Linked DNA regions of Homo sapiens: regions 1, 3, 4 and 5 are each linked to region 2. The links come from fine-mapping of genetic effects on gene expression. A gene starts in region 2. Each other region holds a variant in brackets. All regions are shown on one strand. Distances are between the middles of the regions.

The links.
Region 1: its variant is fine-mapped to the expression of ADGRE2 in whole blood (TOPMed, PIP above 0.99).
Region 3: its variant is fine-mapped to the expression of ADGRE2 in whole blood (TOPMed, PIP 0.98).
Region 4: its variant is fine-mapped to the expression of ADGRE2 in whole blood (INTERVAL, PIP 0.90).
Region 5: its variant is fine-mapped to the expression of ADGRE2 in whole blood (INTERVAL, PIP above 0.99).

What each region holds. Positions count from the first base shown.
Region 1 is chr19:14,797,382-14,802,591 of GRCh38, forward strand. It overlaps OR7C1 (olfactory receptor family 7 subfamily C member 1), which reads right to left. Exons shown (of 5, transcript NM_001370485.4): 3 at 3,152-3,383; 4 at 2,875-3,063; 5 at 1,134-2,768. The coding sequence starts at 2,755. The coding sequence ends at 1,793. Among named protein-coding and RNA genes, the nearest start is that of ADGRE2, 21 kb to the left of the region's middle. RefSeq lists an enhancer at 2,682-3,881. The variant C/T (reference allele first, on the strand shown) is at 2,380.
Region 2 is chr19:14,775,851-14,781,028 of GRCh38, forward strand. ADGRE2 (adhesion G protein-coupled receptor E2) reads right to left here and starts at 2,710. Exons shown (of 21, transcript NM_013447.4): 1 at 2,407-2,710; 2 at 876-1,077. The coding sequence starts at 906. RefSeq lists an enhancer at 187-246.
Region 3 is chr19:14,728,574-14,733,573 of GRCh38, forward strand. ADGRE2 (adhesion G protein-coupled receptor E2) reads right to left here. Exons shown (of 21, transcript NM_013447.4): 21 at 3,819-5,000. It also overlaps a transcript of ZNF333 not described here. Among named protein-coding and RNA genes, the nearest start is that of ZNF333, 41 kb to the left of the region's middle. RefSeq lists an enhancer at 1,993-3,192. The variant C/CT (reference allele first, on the strand shown) is at 3,012.
Region 4 is chr19:14,754,859-14,759,858 of GRCh38, forward strand. It overlaps ADGRE2 (adhesion G protein-coupled receptor E2), which reads right to left. Exons shown (of 21, transcript NM_013447.4): 12 at 1,380-1,487; 13 at 796-1,019; 14 at 96-269. Among named protein-coding and RNA genes, the nearest start is that of ADGRE2, 21 kb to the right of the region's middle. RefSeq lists enhancers at 3,855-4,378, 4,379-4,904. The variant A/T (reference allele first, on the strand shown) is at 2,604.
Region 5 is chr19:14,659,098-14,664,097 of GRCh38, forward strand. ADGRE3 (adhesion G protein-coupled receptor E3) reads right to left here. Exons shown (of 16, transcript NM_032571.5): 3 at 4,321-4,443; 4 at 2,866-3,021. Among named protein-coding and RNA genes, the nearest start is that of ADGRE3, 13 kb to the right of the region's middle. The variant G/A (reference allele first, on the strand shown) is at 2,125.

The sequences.
Region 1 (5,210 bases), 22 kb after region 2:
TCCCAGCTATTCGGGAGGTTGAGGTGGGAGAATGGCATGAACTCGGGAGGCGGAGCTTGCAGGGAGCCGAGATTGCGCCACTGCACTCTAGCCTGGGTGAGAAAGCAAGACTCCATCTCAAAAAAAAAAAAAAAAAAAAAAATCTAACTTAGACGAGATGAAGTGAGAGCAATGTTTTAATTCAGGGGTCAGCAAACCTTCACAGTGAAAAAGGCCAGAGAGTAAATATTTTAGGTAGGTTTTCCAGGTCAGATGATTTCTGTGGCAGTTACTCATATCTGCTCTTGTAACATGAAAGCAGCCACAGATAATATGTACACAAGTGGGTGTGGCTATATGCCAATAAAATTTTATTTGCAAAAAAACAAAAAAAAACAGAAATGGGCAATTTGGGATGCTGGTCATTCTTTGCATTTAAAGCTAGTCTTGATGAAACTGTCTTTTATGGGTTGAATTTTCATTCTCTACAAATTCATATGTTGAAGTCCTTACCGCCAAAACTTCAGAATGTGGTCTCAGCTATTCTGACCTTTGTGAAGCCAATGTTTAGTTTTTTCATTGCAAATATCTGAGATGTTCACAATAGTTTGCATTGCTTATGTGATCATATGTTACATTAAAGCCCTCAGTTAGAAATAGGGCTGCGGTGAATGTAATTAGTTAAGCTAAGATGAGGTCCATAGTGGAGTAGAGTTGGCCTCTAATCTGAATGTTGTCCATATAAGAAGGGGAAATTTGGACACAGACACACCTAGAGGGAGAACATCACCTGAAGATGAAAGCAGAGATTGGGGTGATGCTTCTATATTGTCAAGGAAAGCCAAAGACTGCCAGCAACCGGCAGAAGCTAGGGGTAAGGCATGGAACAGAATCTTTCTCACAGCCTTCAAGTGGAACCAGCCCTGCCAACAACTTGATTTCAGGCGTCATAGTCTACAGAAATGTGAGACAATCAATTGCTATTGTTTAACTCACCCAATTTGTGGCACATTGTTACAGATGCCCTAGAAAGTTAATACACCGTCTTCAAAAATTGTCAAAATCAAGATGAAGCAGCATAGTTGTCTGGGGTAACACCTGAGGTTTGTTGTCCCACAGCCATGGAAGAAGACTGGGATGCGGACACACCAGAGTGAGGTTAAGAGCAGAAGTTTAATAGGTGAGAGAAAGAGAAGAGCTCTATGTGCAGAGAGGGGTCCCAGAGAAAATGGGTTGCCAGTTCCATGGTGAAATGCACAGGGTTTTATAAACTAGCTTGAGGAGGTGTTGTCTGATTTACATAGGCCATAAAAGATTGGTTGGATCAGGTGTGCCATTTGCATAGCATGTGGAGAAGCTGGCTGCCCCACCCTAATCTTTTATTATACAGATGGGTTCTTTACCTGGGCAGCCCCATGTTGCCTGTTCCTTTGCTGTACACATGGTTGACAAAGAAAAGGAAGAGGGAGCCTCCATGTTGAACATGACTGGTCCCCAGCTAGCCCTTTTCTATTGGCGCAGCAGCCGGCATTCACTCATGCAAGCTTCCAGCTTGCTTATCTATGTCTGCAGCTCGATTTTTCAGGCTGTTCTTTGTTAGAAAAGAAATGATTTTGAGGGCTGCTTTTTGTTAACGGGGAAACCTTGCCAAGGACTCTGTGGCCCTCCCTATCTACCTAAATAATTTCTTTCTAGCTCCTGTATCAAAGACACGATAAGATATGGTAATTCCAGAACTAAAAGAGAATACATTGATGTTTGGATACATTCAAGAACCACCAAAAGTGCCTCCCAATGGTCCAAGCCTTGCTACTTATGAAAGTCCTGCAGTGATGTCACCATTAAAAAATGTTGCCCTACTGAGGAGTCTCCCCAGGGCCCTCTTCATGTCCGTGTTCCTCAGGCTGTAGATGAAGGGGTTCAGCATGGGGGTGACCATGGTGTACATCACTGAGGCCACCAGACTTGTCCTAGAAGATGGTGTGGCTGCAGAACTGAGATAGACCCCAAAGCCCGTGCCATAGAACAAGGTGACCACTGAGAGGTGGGAACCACAGGTGGAAAACGCTTTGTGCTTTCTCCCAGCTGAGGAAATCCTCAGTATAGAGAAAACAATTTTATAGTAAGAGAAAAATATTCCAGTGAAGGAAATCACACCCAGGACGCCAGTTGCAAAGTATATCACCACGTTATTAATGAAGGTGTCAGAACAGGCGAGCTTCAGGACTTCAAGTAGATCACAAAAAAAGTGTGGAATTTCCATTTCGGTGCAGAAGGACAGCCTCAAAACAGTCAAGGTCTCGAGCAGGGAACCCATGACACTGATGCACCAGGACCCCAGAACCAGCAGTCCACAGAGCTGGGGGTTCATGATGACCGTATAGTGCAGGGGGTGACAGA[C/T]GGCCACGAAGCGGTCATAGGCCATCACGGTCAAGAGTAAATTGTCCAGGCATCCAAATGAAGTGAAAAAAAAAATCTGACTGAGACAGCCTGCATATGTTATGAATTTGTTCTGTGTCAGTATATTCAGTAACATCTTTGGGACAGTCGTGGAGGTAAAACAGAGGTCAGCAAAAGACAGGTTGGAGAGGAAGAAGTACATGGGGGTGTGGAGGTGGGAGTCTGAGCATATGGCCAGGATGATGAGCAGGTTCCCGGTGAAAGTGACTAGGTACATGGAGAGGAACAGCCCAAAGAGAATGAACTGAATCTCTGACGTTGCTGAAAATCCCAGGAGGAGAAATTCTTGGGCATGTGTTTGATTTCCTGTTTCCATGGGGATAAAATAACTGCCACAAGAGAGAAAAAAGCAACAGTCAATTATCAACACACTGGCAACATGGAAATTTGGTTACATTTAATTTTAAGTGAAGGAATCAATTAACAAAAGATTGCCTTTTTCTTGCTGTCTTTTTCTGGGGCATCTGAAATTCTTCCATCCTTTTCTTTGCTACCATCGGGATCTGGAAATGTAGTGTTAGTTCCATAATACTTGTACCCTCTATAGCCTGGCTTCTCAAAGTGTTGTCCATGAACCAACAAGATCAACAAGAGTTTCTTTAAATGCAGAATCCCTGGTCAGACCTACGGATTCAGAATCTACATTTTAACAATATCACCAAGGGTTTCACATGCATATTAGTGATATAGGAGTTAAGAAAAAATCACTTACGCAGATAGTAAGGTTATGGGAGTCCTCAGTGAGGCTTTTCTTTTTAATGAAAAGCAGCCCCAAATCATTTTCTAACAAAGAGCATCCTGTAAAGGCGAGCTGCAGACACAAACAAGCTGGGAGCTTGCACGGGTGAATGCCGGCAGGAACTAAGGACTAGAAGTTTTCAAGATGGTGGCTCCATCTTCCCTTCTCTTTGTCAGCCACGAGCAGACAAGATGGCGCAGATCAACTGGAAAGTCCAATTGCAAAGTAAGATTAGGGTGGGGCCACCAGCCTTCCCTGAGCACTATGAAAATGTCATACCTGATGGAACCAATCTGTGAGCCTGATGTAAATCAGACACTGCCTCCTCAAAGGGGACTATTAAACTCTGCGCATTCACCACCAGCCTGTCCTTTCCTCTCGGAGACCCTTTTCTCTATGGAGAGAGGTGTTTCTCTTTTTCTTCTCTTCTCCCTATTAAACCTCCGCCTCTGAACTCCTCGTGTGTGTCCGTGTTCTAAATTTTCCTAGTGCATGCCAATGAACCCCAGGGTATATACTCCAGACAATGTAGCAGCTTCATTAATATTTGAGTAGCAATGGTCTTGGACACTTACAGCTTCTAGTTCTCAGCTCTTCTCACCTTTGTTCTCCTCCATGTCTTCCCTCATTCCTCATTACCTAATATGCATGCAAAACAGGAGCTCAATAACTATGCTTTTTCCCCCTGCTATCTGCATGGAGTTGATACTTTTCACACATTGTTCTCAGCTATTCCAACCTTTGTTTATAAAGCCAATGTTTCATTTTTTCAGTGCAAACATCTGACATGTTTACAATAATTTGCATTGTTTATGTGATCATATGTTACATTATTTTACATGTTCGTTTTGTGAGTTTCTGTTCTGTCACTGGAAAGCCAGTCAGACATTATGCTTTAAAAAAATATTTTGGTAAAATATGGTTAAAAAATTTTATAGGTACTGCGTATTAAATTAATGCGATTTTAGGATATATTTTGAATTTTAGGTAGAGAACTCCAAAGTACCAATACTTCACAGAAACATAGATAATACCGTGGCAGCTGTCATAATCAACTTGATCAGTGTATTAGTCCATTCTCACGCTGCTGTAAAGAACTACCCGAGACTGGGTAATTTATGAAGAAAGTGGTTTAGTTGATTCACAGTTCTGTATGACTTGGGAGGCCTCAGGAAACTTACAATTATGGTGGAAGGGGAAGAGGAAGCAAGCATCCTTTTTCACATGGCAGCAGAGAGAGAGAGAGCGCGCGCTAAGGCGGTAGCACCATACTTTTAAACAACCAGATTTCATGAGAATCCCATCACAAGACAGCACTAGGGGAATGGTGCTAAACCATTAGAAACTGCCCCTGTGATCCAATCACCTCCCACCAGGCCCCTCCCTCAACCTTGGGGATTATAATTCGAGATGAGATTTGGGTGGGGACACAGAGCCAAACCATATCAGTCAGGAATCTGGAAAACAGTCAAAGGTTTAGAGCAACAAAGTGAATCCTTAATTTTTTAAAAAAGGTGACTGAAACCAGGTTGGACAGCTTTGTGGCAATTTATCATTTTCCCACCATCTTTCTTGGCTCAGTGGCATTGCTGAATATGACAACCCCACAGTCCCACCAGTTCCTGGTGCTGAAGATAGCGGAAATGTATGGCAATGTTCTGTTTTAATATGTCCAATGGGCCGGGCGTGGTGGCTCACGCCTGTAATCCCAGCACTTTGGGAGACTGAGGCGGGTGGATCACCTGAGGTCAGGAGTTCGAGACCAGCCTGGGCGACATGGTGAAACCCCGTCTCTACTAATAACACAAAAATGAGCTGGGCGTGGTGGCACACGCCTGTAATCCCAGCTACTTGGGAGGCTGAGGCAGGAGAATCGCTTGAACCTGGGAGGCGGAGGTTGCAGTGAGCCGAGATTGTACCACTGCACTCCAGCCTGGGTGACAAGAGTGAAACTCTGTCTCCAAATAATAATTAAAGAAAGATAATAATTCCAATGGACTGCTGAAGGAATAACACAAGGAGCTTACCTTTA
Region 2 (5,178 bases):
TCCGCCTCAGAAAAAAAAAAAAAAAAATGATGGCGCTGGATCCCCCAGGCTCTAAGATGCCCTGGAACCGCATGCTTCCTCAGGGACACAGGTGCACACACACCACAACCGCCGCCAGCCCTGGCGGCCCATCCTGAAACCCAGTGGTGATATTTCACCCCGGGCGCCCCTCCCACAGGAAAACGCTGTGGCCGCCTGTTGGGGTGCATGTGGCGCTGCGGTTCCCAGCACTCAGGAAGTTCCCCTTTCCAAGGCATGTCCTGGGGGACCCTCCTCAGGTCACCAGGGGCTTTAGAGATGGGGACCTAGGGATCTCCTTGTTGTTCACCAGAGAGAGAGACAAAGAGGCAGAGGTAGAGAGAAAACGGAGATTAGGGAGATAGAGAGACTGAAAGAGAGACAGAAGGAGAAAGACAGAGAGAGAGAGAGAAAGAAGGGAGAAGCTGGGGGTACCCTGCAGTGGAGAAGTCCTGGCCTCTATTTTCCCCGCCCCCCGCCCATGTCTTTCTATGCGCTATATTAAGAGCAGTGGCTCTGGGGTCCTAGCACTCACTTTTTGCCCCTTTCCTTCCCCCGTGCCTCAGTTTCCCCTCTTATGGAGCAGATGCCAAACTGGCTCCAGTAGAAAGCTTGAGGATCCCTCCGGGCAGGGTAGCAGGCTCCGAGAGCACCCTGGAGTTCCTGCCGGGGTGTGGGGGTGCCCAAGCACCACCAGCCCCTCTCGCCGTGTGCCCGTGAGTGCCTGCTTGACCATGTGGCTTTCTCCATCGCCGGCCCCACAGACACCAGCGGCGCCTCCCGTTTCTCAGACGCATCCAAGGGGTCCCGCTGGAGCTTCCTCGCTACCACCCCCAGCGGGGCCCCAAAGTACTTACCGAGAAAGACGAGAAAGACGCGGCCTCCCATGGTTCCAGCTGAGCTGCCGGCAGGAGCAGCAGGGGAAAGAGTGAGTGGGACAGGGCTGTCCCGTCTCCGCAGGCTGGGCAGCTGTGCGGGCTGTCCCGAGGCCAGGACTTTATAAAGGAGGGGGGGCGGACAGCCGCTGGCCCAGGGCCCTCCCCGGAACTGGCGGTGCAGCTGGAAGCCAGCAGGAAAGCACAATAAAAACACAGAACCAGGGGCGCTGCACACACACACACACACACACACACACACACACACACACGTGTACTCGCTCAGCAAGAATGAAGTGCAACCTGCTTTAAAAATCCCTCTGCTGGAGTTTCCACCATGTGGCTCTGACCAACCCTCTGGCCTCTGTGTGTTCCAGGCTGGCTGCTGTGCAGGGGAAGGTGTGGCAGCCGGGCGGGGCGGTCTCGCCTGGGGCCACTTGGCTCTTCCCTGGGCAGGCACGCAGGGGCCTTGTCAGAAATAGCTCTGGGCTCCCACTTTGGTAGGGCTCACCCTGTGCCCAGAGCTTTGGCATGCCAGAGTTGGCAGAGCCTGCGTCCCAGCTGGCAGTATCTTCCCCTGCTGTTTTCCAGATGAGGAAACTGAGGCCAGGTACAGAGGCTCACGCCTGTGATCCCAGCACTCTGGGAGGGCGAGGCAGGAGGATCGCTTGAGCTCAGGAGTTTGAGACCAGCCTGGGCAACATGGCGAAGCTCGGTTTCTTTCTTTCTTTTTAAATTAATTAATTAATTAATTAATTAAATTTTTTAGACTTTAAGTTCTAGGGTACATGTGCACAACGAGCAGGTTTGATACATAGGCATACATGTGCCATGTTGGCTTGCTGCACCTATCAACTCGTCATTTACATTAGGTATTTCTCCTAATGCAATCCCTCCCCCAGGCCCCCACCCCCCGACAGGCCCCAGTGTGTGATGTTTCCCGCCCTGTGTCCAGGTGTTCTCATTGCTCAGTTCCCACCTATGAGTGAGAACATGTGGTGTTTGGTTTTCTGTTTCTGTGTTAGTTTGCTGAGAATGATGGTTTTCAGCTTCATCTGTGTCCCTGCAAAGGACATGAACTCATCCTTTTTTATAGCTGCATAGTATTCCCTGGTGTATATGTGCCACACTTTCTTAATCCAGTCTATCATTGATGGACATTTGGGTTGATTCCAGGTCTTTGCTATTGTGAATAGTACCGCAATAAACATACATGTGCATATGTCTTTATAGTAGCATGATTTATAATCCTTTGGGTATATACCCAGCAATGGGATCGCTGAGTCAAATGGTATTTCTAGTTCTGGATCCTTGAGAAATCACCACACTATCTTCCACAATGGTTGAACTAATTTACATTCCCACCAACAGTGTAAAAGCGTTCCTATTTCTCCACACCTGTGATCCCAGCACTCTGGGAGGCCGAGGCAGGAGGATCGCTTGAGCTCAGGAGTTTGAGACCAGCCTGGGCAACATGGCAAAGCTCTGTTTCTTCAAAAAGAAAAAAAATTACCTGGGCTTGGTGGCAGACGTCTGTGGTCCCAGCTGCTACTACTCAGGAGGCTGAGGCAGGAAGAATCACCCGAGCTGGGGAGTTTGAGGCTGCGGTGAGCTAAGATGGTGCCACTGCACTCCAGCTTGGGTGATAGAGTGAGACCCTGTGTCAAAAACAAAAAGAAAGAAAGAAAACTGAGGCATTACAGTGTCCACATAAAAGCCCAGGGAGGGAGAAGGGGCCCTCTTCCGATGCCAGGCAGGTGCCAAGAAGAGAAGCTTCACCGCACAGAGCAGACCCCCCGGATCTTTCTGGTCTTTCTAAGCCAGTTTCCTCCTGTGGGAAACTTATATTTCAGAGGCCCCTGGGCACTTCGTTAATCAACAGAGAATCATGTGATAGGAGGGTTCTTTCCTTTCTGGATAAATCATATGATTAGCTTGTCTCTTGAGGTACGTAATCATTTTTTAAAACGCTATATATATTTTTAAGAGATCTTACTCTGTCACCCAGGCTGGAGTGCAGGGTCACCATCACAGCTCACTGCAGCCTCAAACTTCAGGGCTCAAGGGATCCTCCTGCCTCAGCCTCCTGAGGAGCTGGGACTACAGCTGTGCACCATCACGTCTGGCTAGTTTTCTCCTTAAGTGTTTTTTTTTTTTGTAGAGACGAGATCTCGCTATCCTGCCAAGAAAATGCTATTATTTATGGAGCACTTAATTTGTACCAGGTCTGGTCCTAAGTGCTTTTTTTTTTTAATCTATATTAACTCATTTACTCCTTAAAACATCTGCAATGATGTTGTCATTCCCATTTGACAGAGGAGGAAACTGAGGCACAAGTGACTCACCCAGCTGAGACTCAGATCCACAGGCCGGCAGCCCAGCCCTGGAGTCCCTGCGATGAGCCCAGGGGAAAGTCTCCACTGGGCACTAACATGTCTTTAGCGCCTCCGTGACCCTGAGGCTTAGCAGGTGTCTGTATCCAGCCAGAATTCAAGGACTTGGTTTTGTGTTCCTCATATTTATATTTATTTTTAGGTTTCCCTACTATCTGGGGCAATGAGGAGGGTTTTTCAGTGAGGATGCCGAAATCAAGTCTCCTTGTTACATGAGTAAATTCAAGATGCAGAAGTGATGAATGCTAAGGAAAATATAGTTCAGTTGTTCAAAGGGGGAGATTGCAGCGATGGAGAAAAAAGTCACTAATGACTGAAGTCAGAGAACTATTGTCCTGGGAATAATCAAACATCCACAGTCCTAGAATTTACCCCTTCCTGTCCCGGGCTCCTGTGGGGGTGGCCTGGGCTGTGGGGGAGGGGAGTGAACACCAGCAGAAGCTGGAAGGAGAGAGGGCCAGACCAGGTCTGGAGGGATTTTGCCTTTTTTTTCTCAGAAAGCCAGAAACTCCAGCTAGAACCCCAGGGCTCAACGTCCCTTCTCTGCAGATCAGACGGGCAGGTCAGACAGCTGGCGTCTGCAGAATCTCAGGGAGGTAGTGGCACTTCCTGATGCCAGGGATTGTCCCTACACCCCTTCATGGTGATCATCGACTCTTCTTAATTTAATTTTATTTTACTGTATTTTAGAGACAGACTCTGGTGTTGCCCAGGTTGGAGTACAGTGGCGCCATCTCGACTCACTGCAACCTCCGCCTCCCGGGTTCAAGCGATTCTCCTGCCTCAGCCTCCAGAGTAGCTCGGACTACAGGTGCCCACCACCACACCTGGCTAATTTTTGTATTTTTATTTTATTTTATTTATTTGTTCATTCATTTATTTATTTTGAGACAGAGTCTCGCTCTGTCACCCAGGCTGGAGTGTGGTGATGTGATCTCAGCTCACAGCAACCTCTGCCTCCTGGGTTCAAGAGATTCTCCTGCCTCAGCCTCCCAAGTATCTGGAATTACAGGTGCAAGCCACCACGCCTGGCTAATTTTTGTATTTCTAGCAGAGATGGAGTTTCGCTATGTTGGTCAGGCTGGTCTCGAACTTCTGGCCTCAAGTGATCTGCCTGCCTTGGCATCCCAAAAGTGCTGGGATTACAGGCGTGAACCACAATGCCCGGCCTGAAACATTCTTTTTAAATTTTTATTTTATTATTATTATTATTATTTATTATTACTTTTTTCTGAGACGAAGTCTTGCTCTGTCACCCAAGCCGGAGTGCAGTGGTGCTATCTCGTCTCACTGCAATCTCTGCCTCCCGGGTTCAAGCAATTCTCCTGCCTCAGCCTCCCGAGTAGCTGGGATTATAGGCACCTGCCATCGCATCTAGATAATTTTTGTATTTTTAGTGGAGACAGGGTTTCACCATGTTGGCCAGGCTGGTCTCGAACTCCTGTCCTCAAATGATCCACGCGCCTCAGCCTCCCAAAGCGTTGGGATTACAGGCGTGAGTCACCATTCCTGGCGGCTTTCTTGAGTCTCTCCAATACTTCTCACCATCTCCCTTCTTCCCTAGCAACCATCTGCCCTCGAGCCGCATTAGGCTGTCAGCCCCCTGAGTGACTTTTGTCTTTTTCTCTGCAGAGCACCAGCACAGAGCCTGTGCTGAGTGGGGCCCTATATGGTAAACCATGCAAATTAGTAGTACTCCTGCCACTCCACTCCGCTGCCGCCCAGCTAAAGGAAGCCTCCTTCAGCCTCGCTGATCTGGTCCCTGCCGGGGTGTCTGCCTATGTTTCTCCGCCTTCTCTTTGTCCAGAAGTCTCAGTCCTGCTGACCTATTTTGCAGCTTCTGGACAACCTCTGCAATGATGGGGGGTGCGAACATGGTCCTCATTTGTCAA
Region 3 (5,000 bases), 47 kb before region 2:
GCCACTCATCTCAAACAACAGTTACTGCATCAAACTTTCTCTAGACCTGGGAATGAGTGACCTATGACGACAATGGAAAGGATGAAGAAAATGGCAAAAACTTCCATGTGAATCCCTTTACACCTTAGGTCATGTTGAATATAAAAATGCTCTAGCAATAAATGCTGGGTGCTGCAAAGTGAAACCAGCACTGAGGCAAAAGTTCTCTCAGCAAGGCAGTTTACTTCTGCAGAAGGGTGCCACCCACGTCAATCAAGATCCAAGAGCACAGAGAACAAAGGAGGCCAGGGGGGTTTTATATCCTTAACGCAATCCCTGCCTCCATGTCCTTCCCCCATGGGCTGGGGTCGGCACAATGTAAGCTGACCCGATTGGCTACTTGCGAATATTTCTCTCAAATAAAGAAGGGGGAAGGGGACGTGAGTTACAATGGTGGGACGTGCAGTTTTGAAGGGTATGTGTGTGGTTTTGAGGGGTGGAACGGGTGCAGAATGCGTGACCGAGGGAACAGATGTGAGTTATTGATTAGTGCCGACGGGAAGGCTGTTTATAGTAACTTGGGGCAGGGAGGCATAGAGACAAGGAAGTTAACAGACTGAACCTTTGAAGAGAAACCGAGAGATTCATTGCATCCTACAGTCAGGGTTTCTCAACTGTGACCTTATTGGCCAGATAATTCTTTGCTGTAGGAACTGCCCTATGCACTGAAGACTGTTGAGCAGCATCCCTGGACTATTAACTAAATGCCAGTAGCTTGGGTTGGGGAGATGTTGGTCAAACGATACACTTTTTTTTTTTGTTTTTTGAGACAGGGTCTAATTGTTGTTCAGGTTGGAGTGCAGTGGTGTGGTCACAGCTCACTGCAGCCTCAAACTACTGGGCTCAAGTGATCCTTCCTCCTCAGCCTCCAGAGTAGCTGGGACCACAGGCATGCACCACCATGCCTGGCTAATATTTTTTGTAGAGTTAGGGTTTCTCCATTTTGCCCAGGCTGGGCTTGAACTCTTGGGCTGAAGCGATCTGCCCACCCCAGCCTCCCAAAGTGCTGGGATTATGGTGTGAACCACTGCGCCCGGTGGGATACAAATTTCAGTTAGACAGGAGGAAGAAGTTCAGGAGATCAATTGTAGAGCATGGTGACTATAGTTAATAATAAATTATATTCTTAAAAAATGCTAAGAGAGTGGATGTAAATTGTTCTCACCACCAAATAATAACTATATGAGACGAGGCATACATTAATTTGCTAGATCTGGTTATTCCCCAATGTATACATCCATTAAACATCATGTTGCTCTTGATAAATACATCCAATTTTATCTGTCCAAAGAAAAATGCCAGTGGGATCCCTGCTAGTTGTATACTGGAAAGGGCAGAAATCCTCAGTTCTTTGTTGTCTTGAGAGAAAGATTTTGGCTAAAATGACTACTTTAGCCAAAAAGAGAATTTATTGAAGGAAAATAGAGAGAAGAGAGTTATTTTTATTTTTTATTTTTTGAGATGGAGTCTCGCTCTGTCACCCAGGCTGGAGTACAATGGCACAATCTCTGCTCACTGCAACCTCTGCCTCCCAGGTTCAAGTGATTCTTCTGCCTCGCAGCCTCCTGAGTAGCTGGGATTACAGGTGCCCGTGACCATGCCTGGTTAATTTTTGTATTTTTAGTAGAGATGGGGTTTCACCATGTTGGTCAGGCTGGTCTTGAACTCCTGACCTCAGGTGATCTGCCTGCCTCAGTCTCCCAAAGTGCTGGGATTACAGGTGTGAACCACCGTGCCCGGCCACTGTCTTCATTTTCAGAATGTTCCACTTAGTTCTTCCCAGCCCCTTCTCTCTTATCCCACCATCAGTCTGTCCTTCCTTCCTTCTTTCCTTCCTCCCTTCCTCTCTTTCTTTCACTTTTTTCTTTTTCTTTCTTTGCTTTTCCTTTCTCTATCTCCTTTCTTTTTCTTTGTCTTCCTCTCTCTTTCTGTATTTCTTGCACTGTAAATTTAAGAGTTTATTATTTAAAAAAAGTTAAAGCTAGCAAAGCAGTTTGTAATAACCCAAACTGGGAACAACCCAAATGTCTATCAACAGTGATTTTTTTAATTTCAACTTTTATTTTTAGATTCTGAGGGTACACGTTTAGGTTTGTTACAAGAGTATATTGCATGATGCTGAGGTTTGGGGTACAAATGAATCCAGTTAGTGAGCATAGTACCTGATAGGTAGTTTTTCAACCCTTGCCCTCCTCCCTCCCTCCTCCATCTAGTAGTCCCCATTGTCTAATGCTCCCATCTTTATGTTCACGTGTACCCAATATTTAGCTCTCTCTTACAGGTGAGAACATGCGGTATTTGGTTTTCTAAGTTAATTCACTTAGGATGATGGTTCCAGCTGCATTCATGTGGCTGCAAAACACACCACCATCAGTCTTTCAAACTCCCATCCCAGAATGCCCTAAATAGCAGATATTTAGGACATTCATAGGCAGTCCCTTACATGCTGCCCTGGTCTCAAGCACCGCCCCTCCTGCCCCCTCCCCCCAAGGATTGGCCCCTTTATTCATTCAATTTCTCTTCTCTTTCCCTCATTCTTCCTCCTTATAATTCCCTTTTCAGCCACCCAACTAATTTGGAAGAATTTCCACATCCAGTACTCTCTTGCATGTTCAGATCGCTAGAATCCAACCTCTGGATATCAAAGGATCACTACTGGGGCTTGAAGACTCCAAATCTGCAGATTCTGAAGCTTGCAGGTCAGTGGCCTTGGACTTTCAAACTTCCAGTTCCGTGACATCCGGGCTCCTTAACTTCCGGCTTCCGGGAGCTTAGTCACATACTTCTGGCTTCCGGATTGTAGGTTCCCCGCAAGGAGACTAAGGCCTGTGTGGGTCTTTGTTTCCCCAGCCGTGCAATGACTGTTAGATGCAGAAAGGGGGAAAACAGCCAGGGAAACTGCTCACAGTGGACCCCCACGGTGGAGAGCTGGAGGGAGAGGGTTCTTCAAACGTGTACCCTAGCTCCTTTGT[C/CT]TGCTGTCTTTGGTGGGCGTGGTCTTGTACTTAAAATCCAGCTGAGAAGCCAAACTCTACCTTAAAGCCGTATTTCATGTTTCAAACTGGATGATATAATTCTGGAGAAATGAGATGGGAAACTCTGCTGCCTACTTGCCCCTTAACTCTTGTTTATCTTTGGGTTTCTTACTACATACCAGAGCTTAATCTTTATTTTCTTACTTAATATTCAAACACAACCCATGAGCAAATTAACATTATTTCCATCATAAATAAAGAGAATGGACTTAATAAATTTAAAAAGTGAAGATATGGGGGCAAATGGATGCTGCCATCAGCTGACCCTAGAGTTTCCTCTGACCTTCCTTCCCCAACCTCGTCTGTGTTTCACTTCTGCCATGTCCTTAAAGGGGCTGTGTGTCCCCCAGACCACAGAGTCCATTGCACTGCACCTTTCCTTCCTCCTCATTTTCCATCTTACAAATCATCAATATTCCTGGATGTAGGATCATGTCTGTCTTATATGTTTTAGTTTCTCTCAATTTAGCATTATGCCTTGCACGAGAGTATAGGAATACCTCATTTCATTGCCCTTCACAGATATTGCATTTTTTACAAATTGAACGTTTATGGCAGCCCTGTGTCGAGCAAGTCTGTAGGTGCCATTTTCCCAACAGCATGTGCTCACTTTGTGTCCCTGCTTGAGCATTTTTTAGGAATAAACTATTTTTAAATTAAAGTATGTACATTAAAAAAAAGACATAATGCTATTGCACACATTACAGTATAGGGTAAGCATACTTTTATGCACACTGGGAAACCAAAAAATGTGTATGACTTGCTTTATTGCAATATTCACATTATTGTGGTGATCTGGAGTGGAGCCTGCAATATCTCTGAGGTGTGTCTGTATGTGCTCATCACATATGTGATGAATGGATGAATAAATTAGTGTAGAGTGAAGTGCTTCCATGAACCTGAACATCATGGTCTGGAAACTATGGGCAGTGAGTCAAATCTGACCCACCATCTGTTTCTGTACAGCTAAGAATAGTTTTTACATTTTTCAAATGGGTGAAAACAAATAAAAAGAAGAATGATATTTTGTGTCACATGACTGATATATGAAGTTCAAGCTCAGTGTCCATAAAGTTTTATTAAAACATAGCCATGATCATTCATTTATGATTGTCTATAGCTGTTTTCATATCACAATGGAAGTTCAAGTTCAGTGTCTGTAAAGTTTTATTAAAACATAGCCATGATCATTCATTTATGATTGTCTATAGCTGTTTTCATACCACAGTGGTAGAATTGAGTTGCTGTAAATACCTGGCTCACAAAGCCTAACATATACACTATCAGGCTCTTTAAGAAAACATTTGGCGACCCCTGCTCTAGGTAGACTCTATGGGGATATGGGCTCTACACTCATAGGGACCCACATGTTCCAAGCCTCCAGCTGTGTGTTCTGCTTCCTCAAGCAGCAGCTGACTCTGATATTCCCCATCTCACCTTAGCAGTCTATATCAAGCAAAGGGCACGCAGAATCCCATGCACCCATCATGTATGTAATAAAAGGCAGATATTATGTGGTCTCTTGAACCAGCCTTAGGCATGGAGGTTGAGGATCAGGAGTGACTTGAGGGTACTGACTGGCAGAGCAGGAGCCCCGTTATTTTGGACAAACACCGCCACTTTAAGTTTCAGCTTCATTTTTAGCCTTCTGGATTTAAGGAAATTACTTTTTTAAAAACTATAAGCAGCCAAAAAAAGCAGACAGTAAAATGCAGATAAAACAGCTCGGGCACAGAGGAAGGTGGAGGAAAAGTCTCTTGGGTAACTGCCAAACTTCACCCTCATACAATGGGCCCCAGTAAAACAGTGGGCCTTAATAAGCACATTCCTTTCCCTCCAGGTGCACTAAAATAGGGAAGCTAAAAGCAGACTTGGGGGGTATGCCTACAGCTGCAGAAAAATGTATAAAAGCAAACACACCACTCTCCC
Region 4 (5,000 bases), 21 kb before region 2:
AGATAATGCATATATTTTTTTAAAAGGCTGCTACGTCTCTGGGGATTTGTTACACGGCAATAAATGCAGAGTGCATCCCCTCCTAAGGGTCTCACCTGCACATCGTAGTGGGCCATGAGGACGGCAAAGCTGCTCAGGTGGGTGCAACGGCAGATGGTGCTGGTGTCTCTGGTGCCTATTGTGCTGCAGCCTGTGGTGGCCCAGTGACCACATCCATTCTGGCCATGCTCCCAGAAGACACAGAGCACCTTCTGTCTCGGGATCACTGACTGCAGGAACAGAACACAGGTGTGGGCTGGGCATGGTGGCTCACGCCTGTAATCCCAGCACTTTGGGAGGCTGAAGCAGGTGGATCACTTGAGGTCAGGAGTTTGAGACCAGCCTGGCCAACATGGTGAAACCCCATCTCTACTAAAAAAAAAAAAAAAAAAAAAAAATACAAAAATTAGCTGGGCGTGGTAGCACACACCTGTAGTCCCAGCTATTAGGGAGGCTGAGGCAGGAGAATCGCTCGAACCTGGGAGGCGGAGACTGCAGTGAGCTGAGATCGTGCCACTGCACTCCAGCCTGGCTGACACAGCGAGACTCTGTCTCAATAAAAAAAAGAACACAGGTGTGAGCTGGTGGGTCGGATGCTCAGAAATGCTTACCCAAAGCCGGCTTGGGAAGGACTGACTTTCCTGGGGAGATAATGTACCCATAACAGAGACCCCTGAGCCCCAGGGCTGAGCTGAGCAGCAAGGCTATGCCCGGACTCAGACTATTCACCCACCAACCAACTCCACCAGCACTCACACGGTGGGAGAAGGTGAAGGTAACTGGGGAGCTGAGGTTTTGGGTGTCGTTGTTGCTCAGAAAGGCAGAGATCACATCTGAGAGCAGGATGGGGGAGCCGTCCTGCAGCAAGCCCTGGTGTGTCTCATGCAGAAGCATCTGCTTCTCAGGTTCCAGGACCAGAGGGGCCTCAGCCAGCAACTTGCCCATCCCTGGAATGGAGACAAGGCCCACCACAGAAGGGCCTGCAGGGCGAGGCCAAGGTTGAATCTTGGAGTAGGTTGAATCTCTGGGTCCACACCAGAGTTCCTCTGCCCTGCACAGAACTTTCTACTCAGATGGGCTACCTTCCTTTGGCTTCACCCCTCCCACACTTTCCTTCAATCTTTAGTTCTATGTGTATCACATCCTGCAGGACAAGGCCACGGTTAATATCTCAGGGTCCCCAACAAGGTCCGTTCCTCCTCAGCTGGACTCTCCTCTTACAGCCCCACTCCAAACATCCCACACTTCCCTTTAATCTTTAAATTTCTTATTTTTCACATTCTTGGGCATCTTTTCCCACCATGAAGCTTCACTGACCACCTCCCCATCTCAGCCATTACCTGGGTCACCAGATTTCTGTGCCTGATTCCAGTCGAGCTGCATCACTGCCTGATTCTGTCTCAAGGTGACACTCCTGTCTACTTGCTTCTGCACCTCCAGGGACAATTCTATGAGTTGTGGGAATTACATAAGGGGGGTTAGGTTAGGAATCGTGCCTGCAGTGGTTGATATACTATGACTTAATATATATACTATATACATATATAGTCTGAAGTTACAAAATATCGGAAGAGAATAGTGTGAGCAACTGTATATCTACAAAGTAGGTAACCTAGATGAAATGGACACATTCCTAGTGACACACAAACCACTGAAATCAACTCAAGAAGAAATAGAAGATCTGAACAGACCTATAACAGATTAAATCAGTAATCAAAACCTCTCAAAACTAACAGCCCAGACCAGATGACTTCACTGGTGAGTTCTACCAATAGCTTAAGAAAGAATGAACATGAATCTTTTACCTTTTTAAAAATATGGAAGAGGAGGAAACACTATTTAAGTAATTTTATGAGTCTAATATTGCTCTGATAACAAAACCAGATGAAGACATCACAAGAAAATAAAATTATAGACCAATATTTCTTATGGACATAGATGCAAAAATTTTCAGCAAAAATGTTAGGAATACATTTTACGAAGGAGACTCAAGACTTATAGGAAAGTTTTTTGAGTATTTTTTTTTTTTTGAGACAAATTCTCACCTGTTGGTCAGGCTAGAGTGCAGTGGCATGATCATAGCTCACTGCAGTCTCCTGGGCTCAACCAATCCTTCCACCTCAGCCTCCCAAGTAGCTGGCACTACAGGTGCTCACTACCACAGCCAGCTAATTTTTAAATTTTTTGTGGAGATCATGTTTCAGTATATTTCCAAGGCTGGGCTTGAACTCCTGGGCTCAAGCAATTCTCCCACCTTGGTGGCCTCTGACAATATTGGGCGTGAGCCACTGCTTCTGGCCTACAAAAGTGTTTGAAAGAAATAAAAGGCCCTCTCTAAATGGAAAGACAGCCTATGTTCATGGATTGGAAGACTTTCTATTGTTAAGATAACAATACTCCCCCAAAGTGGTCTAGAGACTCAATGCAATCCCTATCAATATTTTAGCCTATTATTACTTTGCAGAATAAGAAAAGTTCATCTTAAAATTCATATGGTGTTGTAAGGAATCCAAATACCCAAAAACAATCTTGAAGAAGAACAAGAAGGTTGGAGAATTCACACT[A/T]CCTGATTCCAAAACTTACTACAAACTGACAGTAATACTGGCATAAGGACACAACAGAATAGAATTGAGAGTCCAGGAATAAACCCATCCATCTTATGGTCAGTTGATTCTCAACAAGGGGTGCCAAGACTATACAATGGGGGAAAGAATAATCTCTTCAACAAATAGTGCTGGGATTACTGGATAGTAACATGAAAATAAGGAAGTTTTAACCCTACCCTCACACAACAAACAAAAATTAACTCAAAATAAGCCAGTGACCTAAGCTTAGAAGCTAAAACTAGAACACTTAGGAGGAAACAGGGGTAAATCTTCCTGGTCTTGGATGCGGTAATGAATTCTTTTTTTATTTTTATTTTTGGGACAGAGTCTTGCTCTGTCATCCAGGCTGGAGTGTAGTGGCACAATCTCAGCTCACTGCAACCTCCGTGTCCCAGGTTCAAGCAATTCTCCTGCCTCAGCCTCCTGAGTAGCTAGGATTACAGTCATGTGCCAACACATCTGGTTAATTATTTTTATTTTTATTTTTAGTAAGGACAGGGTTTCGCCTTGTTGGCCAGGCTGGTCTCAAACTCCTGACCTCAGGTGATCCGCCCACATTGGCCTTCCAAAGTGCTGGGATTACAGGCGTGAGCCACCACCCCCTGTCAATGAATTCTTAAATATGACACCAATTGCACATGCAACAAAAGAAAAATTAGATAAAATAAATGTCTTCAAGATTTAAAACTTCTATTCATTAAAGTGAAAAGACAAGAAAATGAAAAGACAATCTACAGAACGGGAGAAAATATTTTGCAAATCATTCATCTCAGATGATCTACTATCAGAATGTTTAAAGAATGCTTACAACTGGACAACCAAAAGACAAACAGCACAATTAAAAATAGGCAAAGGATTTGAATAGACATTTCTCCAAAAATGACATGCAAATGGTGAGCAAACACATGAAAAGATGTTAAACATCATTAGTTATCAGGGAAGGGCAAATCAAAACCACAATGAGGTATCATCTCACTAGTGAAGTGGTGTAAATACCCAAGTTTCACTGTTTCACACCAGGGAAATTGAGGATGTGGACACATAAGAAGTTAGTTTAAGAGTGGAGATTTAATAGGCGAAAGAAAAAAAGAATAGCTCTGGCTGGGCGCAGTGGCTCACGCCTGTAATCCCAGCACTTTGGGAGGCTGAGGCGGGAGGATCACGAGGTCAGGAGATCGAGACCAACCTGGATAACACGGTGAAACCCCGTCTCTACTAAAAATACAAAAAAATTAGCTGGGCATGGTGGTGGGCGCCTGTAGTCCCAGCTACTCCGGAGGCTGAGGCAGGAGAATGGCGTGACCCCGGGAGGCGGAGCTTGCAGTGAGCCGAGATCGCGCCCCTGCACTGCAGTCTGCGGGACACAGCACGACTCCGTCTCAAAAAAAAAAAAAGGAAAAAGAGAATAACTCCCTCTCCTGCAGAGAGACAGGGGCTCCCAAGTGGGTCTTCCGGTTGCGTGGTGAAATGCACGAAGTTTTATAGATGAGCTTGGGTAGGCGGTGTCCGATTTACATAAGGCTTAAAGATTGGTCTGAACAGGTGAGCCATTTACATACAGCATGAAGAAACTGGCTGCCCCAGCCTAATCTTTTATTATGCAAATGGATTCTCTACCTGGCTGGCTCCACGTTGCCTGCTTCTGTACTGTACACGTGGTTGACAAAGATAAAGGAAGAGGGAGCCCCCACGTTGAACATGTCGGGCCCCCAGGTAACCTTTTCCTATTGGCACAGCTGCCGGCATTCACCCGTGCAAGCTTCCAGCTTGCTTTTCTATGTCTGCAGCTCGAATTTTCAGGCTGCTCGTTATTAGAAAAGAAATGATTTGGGGGCTGGTTTTTATTAAAAGGGAAACCTTACTGAGGACTCTCTGACCCTTGCTAACTGCCTAAATAATTTCTTTTTCACTCCTGTATCACTGGGATGAAGAGAGGTGAGTTAACAGGTAGAGACATACAGTTAGACAAAAAGTATAAGTTATACATATATATATATATATTTTTTTTTTTTAGACGGAGTCTCACTCTGTCACCCAGGCTGGAGTGCAGTGGCACGATCTCAGCTCACTGCAGCCTCTGCCTCCTGGGTTCCAGCGAATCTCCTGCCTCAGCTTCCCAGGTAGCTGGGATTACAGGCACGTGTCACTAAGCCCAGCTAATTTTTGTATTTTTAATAGCCAGGGTTTCACCATATTGGCCAGGCTGGGCTCAAACTCCTGATGTCAGGTGATCTGCCTGCCTTGACCTCCCAAAGTGCTAGGATTACGGGTGTGAGCCACCAAGCCAGCCACCTCTCCGCTTATTAAGCAGATTTTTTTTTTTTTTTTTTTTTGAGACGGAGTCTCACTCTGTCA
Region 5 (5,000 bases), 120 kb before region 2:
CAATCTTGGCTCACTGCAATCTCAATGTCCTGGGCTCAAGCAATCCTCCACCTCAGTCCCCCAAGTAGCTGGGACTGTAGGTGTGTACCACCAGACCTGGCTAAATTTTTTTTTTTTGTATTTTTTGTAGAGATGGGGTTTCGCCATGTTGGCCAGGCTGATCTCAAATTCCTGACCTCAGGCAATCCACCCGCCTTGGCCTCCTAAAATGCAAGGATTACAGGCGCGAGCCACCGTGCCTGGCCTCCAAATTCTTTTATTCCATCTTGACTGGAAATTAGAACTGAAATGTCCGAGAAAACAGAAAATTAGAAGCCTCTTGTGTTTAAAGTCAGCCTGGCTGGGAATGATAACCGAAACAGAAGCATCAGTGTCTGGTCATCAGCTGTTAATGAAGACTTTTGTGTTGGTTTCTGTGCTTAGTGAGGACATCTCTGCTTTAGAAATTTGAGGAAGGGTGCACCTGTAGTCCCAGCTGCTTGGGAGGCTGAGGCAGGAGGATCATATGAGCCTAGGCATTCGAGACCAGCCTGGCCAACATGGCAAAACCCTGTCTCTACTAAAAATACAAAAATTAGCTGGGCATGTTGGCGGGTGCCTGTAATCCCAGCTACTCGGGAGGCTGAGGCAGGAGAATCTCTTGAACCTAGGAGGCAAAGGTTGCAGTGAGCTGAAATGACACCACTGCACTCCAGCCTGGGAGACAGAGCGAGACTCTGCCTCTGAAAAAAAAAAAAAAAAAAAAAAAAAAGACAAGGAAAGTCTAGCAAATGTTTACATATCTTTTATCATCATGCTGAGGTTAAATCTGTACTTATTCTAAATTTTGGTTTTCAGCTCAGTCTATTTGCTTAAAAGCACAAACAGCTTTGTTTTAATACTGAACATTTTATCTTAAGAGTTCAAGAACTTTGACTTACAACCCTGAGTCTAGAATATGTTTGTTATAGGAAACCGTATTTATTGTAGAAAACTGCCCTTTTGAACCAAAGCTGCACACTTTATCATTGGGTGGGGGTGTCTGTTGCTTAGAGCTGCCAGCCTTGGTAATAACGAACCCCAAATGGGCTCAGTCTTTATAAAAGGACGGTGCAGACCTCTTAACATTAGGAAAACAACCAAAGGCATTTTCCTTTTTTGTAAAATAAGACAAGTTTAAGAGATTAACATCAGAACCCAGGTAGAATCACAGTCTGCTTCTACACTGTCAATAGAGGTGCGCATTGCTTAGTAAAAGACAGATTTATGGCTGAGTGCTGTGGCTTATGCCTATAATCCCAGCACTTTGGGAGGCCAAGGCAGAAGGATCGCTTGAGACCAGGAGTTTGAGATCAGCCTGGGCGACATAGTGAGAACCCCATCTCTACAAAAAATGAATAAATTAGCCAGGTATGGTGGCTCATACCTATAATCTCAGCCACTCAGGAGGCTGAGGTGGGAGGATTGAGCCTGGAAGTTCAAGGCTGCAGTGTGCAATGATTGTGCCACTGTACTCCAGCCTGGGTGACAGAGTGAGACCCCATCTCTTAAAAAAAAAAAAAGTTTCTCTCTTATTATCCCTACGGTAGTCAATACCTCATGGGTGGTCTACCAAGTCTCATCTCTTTTCTCATATAGACTTTCCCATCCATGTTTTCCATGGGAGTGGTCATGTTTACATGACACAGTATCTCTCCCTGGACACGGATCCACGGGTGCACATGGGGCTCAAACTGGGCCAATGTATTCATTCCCAAAGAATTTGCAATGGGGTCTCAGAGAGAGAGTCAACTGATCTCTCTTTGGTTGGTTGGGGCAAAAAAAATGGTAAGATCTGGAGCGGGTTGGTGGTCATATTTCCTTTTTTTTTTTTTTTTTTTTTTGAGACAGAGTTTCACTCTGTCACCCAGGCTGGGGTGCAGTGGCGGGATCTTGTCTCACTGCCACCTCTGCTTCCCAGGATCAAGCAATTCTTGTGCTTCACCCTCCTGAGAAGCTGGGATTACAGGCACCCGCCACCACACCCAGCTAATTTTTGTATTTTTAGTAGAAATGGGGTTTCGCCATGTTGGCCATGCTGGTCTTGAACTCCCGGTCTCGAGTGATCTACCCGCCTTGGCCTCCCAAAGTATTGGGATTACAGGC[G/A]TGAGCCACCCCTCCCAGCCGGTGGTCATATTTTCTGTCCTGTGGTCTAGGAAGCAGAGAAAGCCAGCCTGCAGTGAAAGAGAAGGAAGGAGCAGATCCAAAGATGATTAGAGACAGGGACTAGGAGATGCACCCTGGGGGTGTTGAGTTCCCAGTTTTAGTTAATTCCAGAAGCCCAGCTGCATTCCTGTCCTTGCAGGGCATGGCTACGCATCGTTTTCATAAACCCATTTTTTGGCCTGTTAGCCTGAGTGAGTTTCTCTTCCTTGCAATTCAAAGAATGTGGTCTCAATCACCACCTTGTCACATCCTCCATCTCCAAACTATAGTTCCCTTTCTCACCCCCTTATTTCCCTCAACTTGAACTTCCTTCTTTCCTTGTAGTTCCCTGCAGAAAATAAAAACCACATCCTGGTCCCACAACAAATACGTCTTTTCTGATGTTAGATTCAATAAAAAATGAGGAAGGACTGCCGCCTGTAAAAAGTCCCAGCACTTTGGGAGGATGAGGAGCGTGGATCAAGAAAAATTAGCTGGGCGTCGTGGTGCACGTCTGTAATCTCAGCTACTTGGGAGGCTGAGACAGGAGAATCGCTTGAGCCCGGGAGGCGGAGGTTTCAGCCACTGCACTCCAGCCTGGGCTACAGAGCGAGACTCTGTCTCAAAACAAAACAAAACAAAACAAACAAACAAAAAAACAACAACAGAGGAAGGAAGGCAGGAGGACAAAAATGTTCTTACCCTGACAGGTGTTCTCATTGGAATTACTGAATTGTTCATTCCCAGAATGCAGTCTATATCCTGGGACACATTGACAGTAGAAACTTCCTTCGACATTGTAACACACAGCGTTAAATCCACAATATACACTATAGGGTGGTGTACATTCATTAATGTCTGGAACACAAAGAAGCAATTGGGTCATTCATTCAGCAAAGATTTATTGAGCAGCTACTATGTGTCAGGAGTTGTGCTCTTTCCCCCATGGTCTGTCCTGGCTTTCCGAGACAAATCAGTTTAGGTAATGGTTATCTTGGTTTTTCGCTTTCTTCATTGACTTTGGTGGGGTTCTCCAGGAAGCAGACAATGAGACGAGAATATAAGTACTTTATTTGGGAGGGGATCCCAGGAAACACTGAGAGGGCAGTCGCGAAATGAAACAAGAAACTATCTTTTCTTTTTGAGACGGAGTCTTGCTCTGTCATCCATGCTGGAGTGCAATGGCAGGATCTGGGTTCACTGCAACTTCTGCCTCCTGAGTTCAAGCGATTCTCCTGCCTCAGCCTCCCGAGTAACTGGGATTGCAGGCATGCACCACCACGCCCGGCTGATTTTTGTATTTTTAGTAGACACGGGGTTTCACTATGTTGGCCAGGCTGGTCTCAAACTCCTGACCTCAGGTGATCCACCTGCCTTGGCTTCCCAAAGAACTGGGATTACAGGCGCGAGCCACCATGCCTGGCTGAAACAAGAAACTATCTTAAATGAACGGCCAAGTTTCCAAAACAGCCCCCATTTTGCCTCCCTTTTGCTCCTGCTTCTGGATAACTTGCAAATTATCCCTGGCCAGGTGCAGGGTTCACGCCTGTAATCCCAGCACTTTGGGAGGCCGAGGCGGGAGGATTGCTTGAGCTCAGGAGTTTGAGACCAGCCGGGACAATATAGTAACAATCCATCTCTACAAAAAAAAAAAAAAAAAAAAAAAAATTAGCTGGGCATGGTGGCACGCCTGTAGTTGCAGCCACTTGAGAGGCTTGATCCCAGGAGTTGGAGGCTGCAGTGAGTGTTTTTATTTATTTTGATCAGAGTCTCGATCTGTTGCCCAGGCTGGAGTGCAGTGGTGCAATCTCGGCTCACTGCAACCTCTGCCTCCCAGGTTCAAGCTATTCTCATGCCTCAGCCTCTTGAGTAGCTGAGATTATAAGCGCCCCACACCATGCCCGGCAAATTTTTGTATTTTTAGTAGAGATGGGGTTTTGTCATGTTGGCCAGACTGGTCTCGAACTCCTGACCTCAAGTGATCTGCCCACCTAGGCCTCCCCAAGTGCTGGGATTACAGGCTTGAGCAACTGTGTCCAGCTTGCGGTGAGCTTTGATCATGCCACAGCAGTCCAGCCTGGGCAACAGAGCAAGACCCTGTCTCTAATAATAATGATAATAAAATAATAATAATAAAAAATAATAATACTTCTTTACCGTTACATGTCTCCAAGGGGAATGTGAATAGTTTCTGCCCAGATCCAGAAGTATATCCATGGTTGCAGGTGCAGTGAGTGTTATTGACACAGGAAGCATTTGGGGGGCACTTAGCACAGGAAGCTGCAGGGAGAAGAGAGGCAGGTTAAATGGACTGGGGTCACAAACTCTCCTGTTATAATTAGGCCCTGCCTCTTGATCACCTGAGGTCAGGAGTTCAAGAGCAGCCTGGCCAACATACTGAAACCCCATTTCTACTAAAAATACCAAAAATAGCCAGGCGTGGTGGTGCATGCCTATAATCCTAGCTACTCAGGAGGCTGAGGCAGGAGAATTGTTTGAACCTGTGAGGCGGAGATTGCAGTGAGCCGAGATTGTGCCACTGCACTCCAGCCTGGGTGACAGAGGGAGACTCCATTTCAAAACAAATATATATATTTGTTACATAGGTATACACGTGCCACGTTGGTTTGCTGCACCCATTTACATTAGGTATTTCTCCTAATGCTATCCCTCCCCCAGCCCCCCACTCCCCTGACATATTATATATGTAAATAATAATAATAATGAGGCCTCGCCTCTGGGCAGGGCCTCTCAAGGCTGAGGAAGCCTGTGCCTTTTCCTCTTGTGAGATCTAAGCACGTTAAAAAATTAGAGTGGCCAGGCGTGGTGGCTCACTC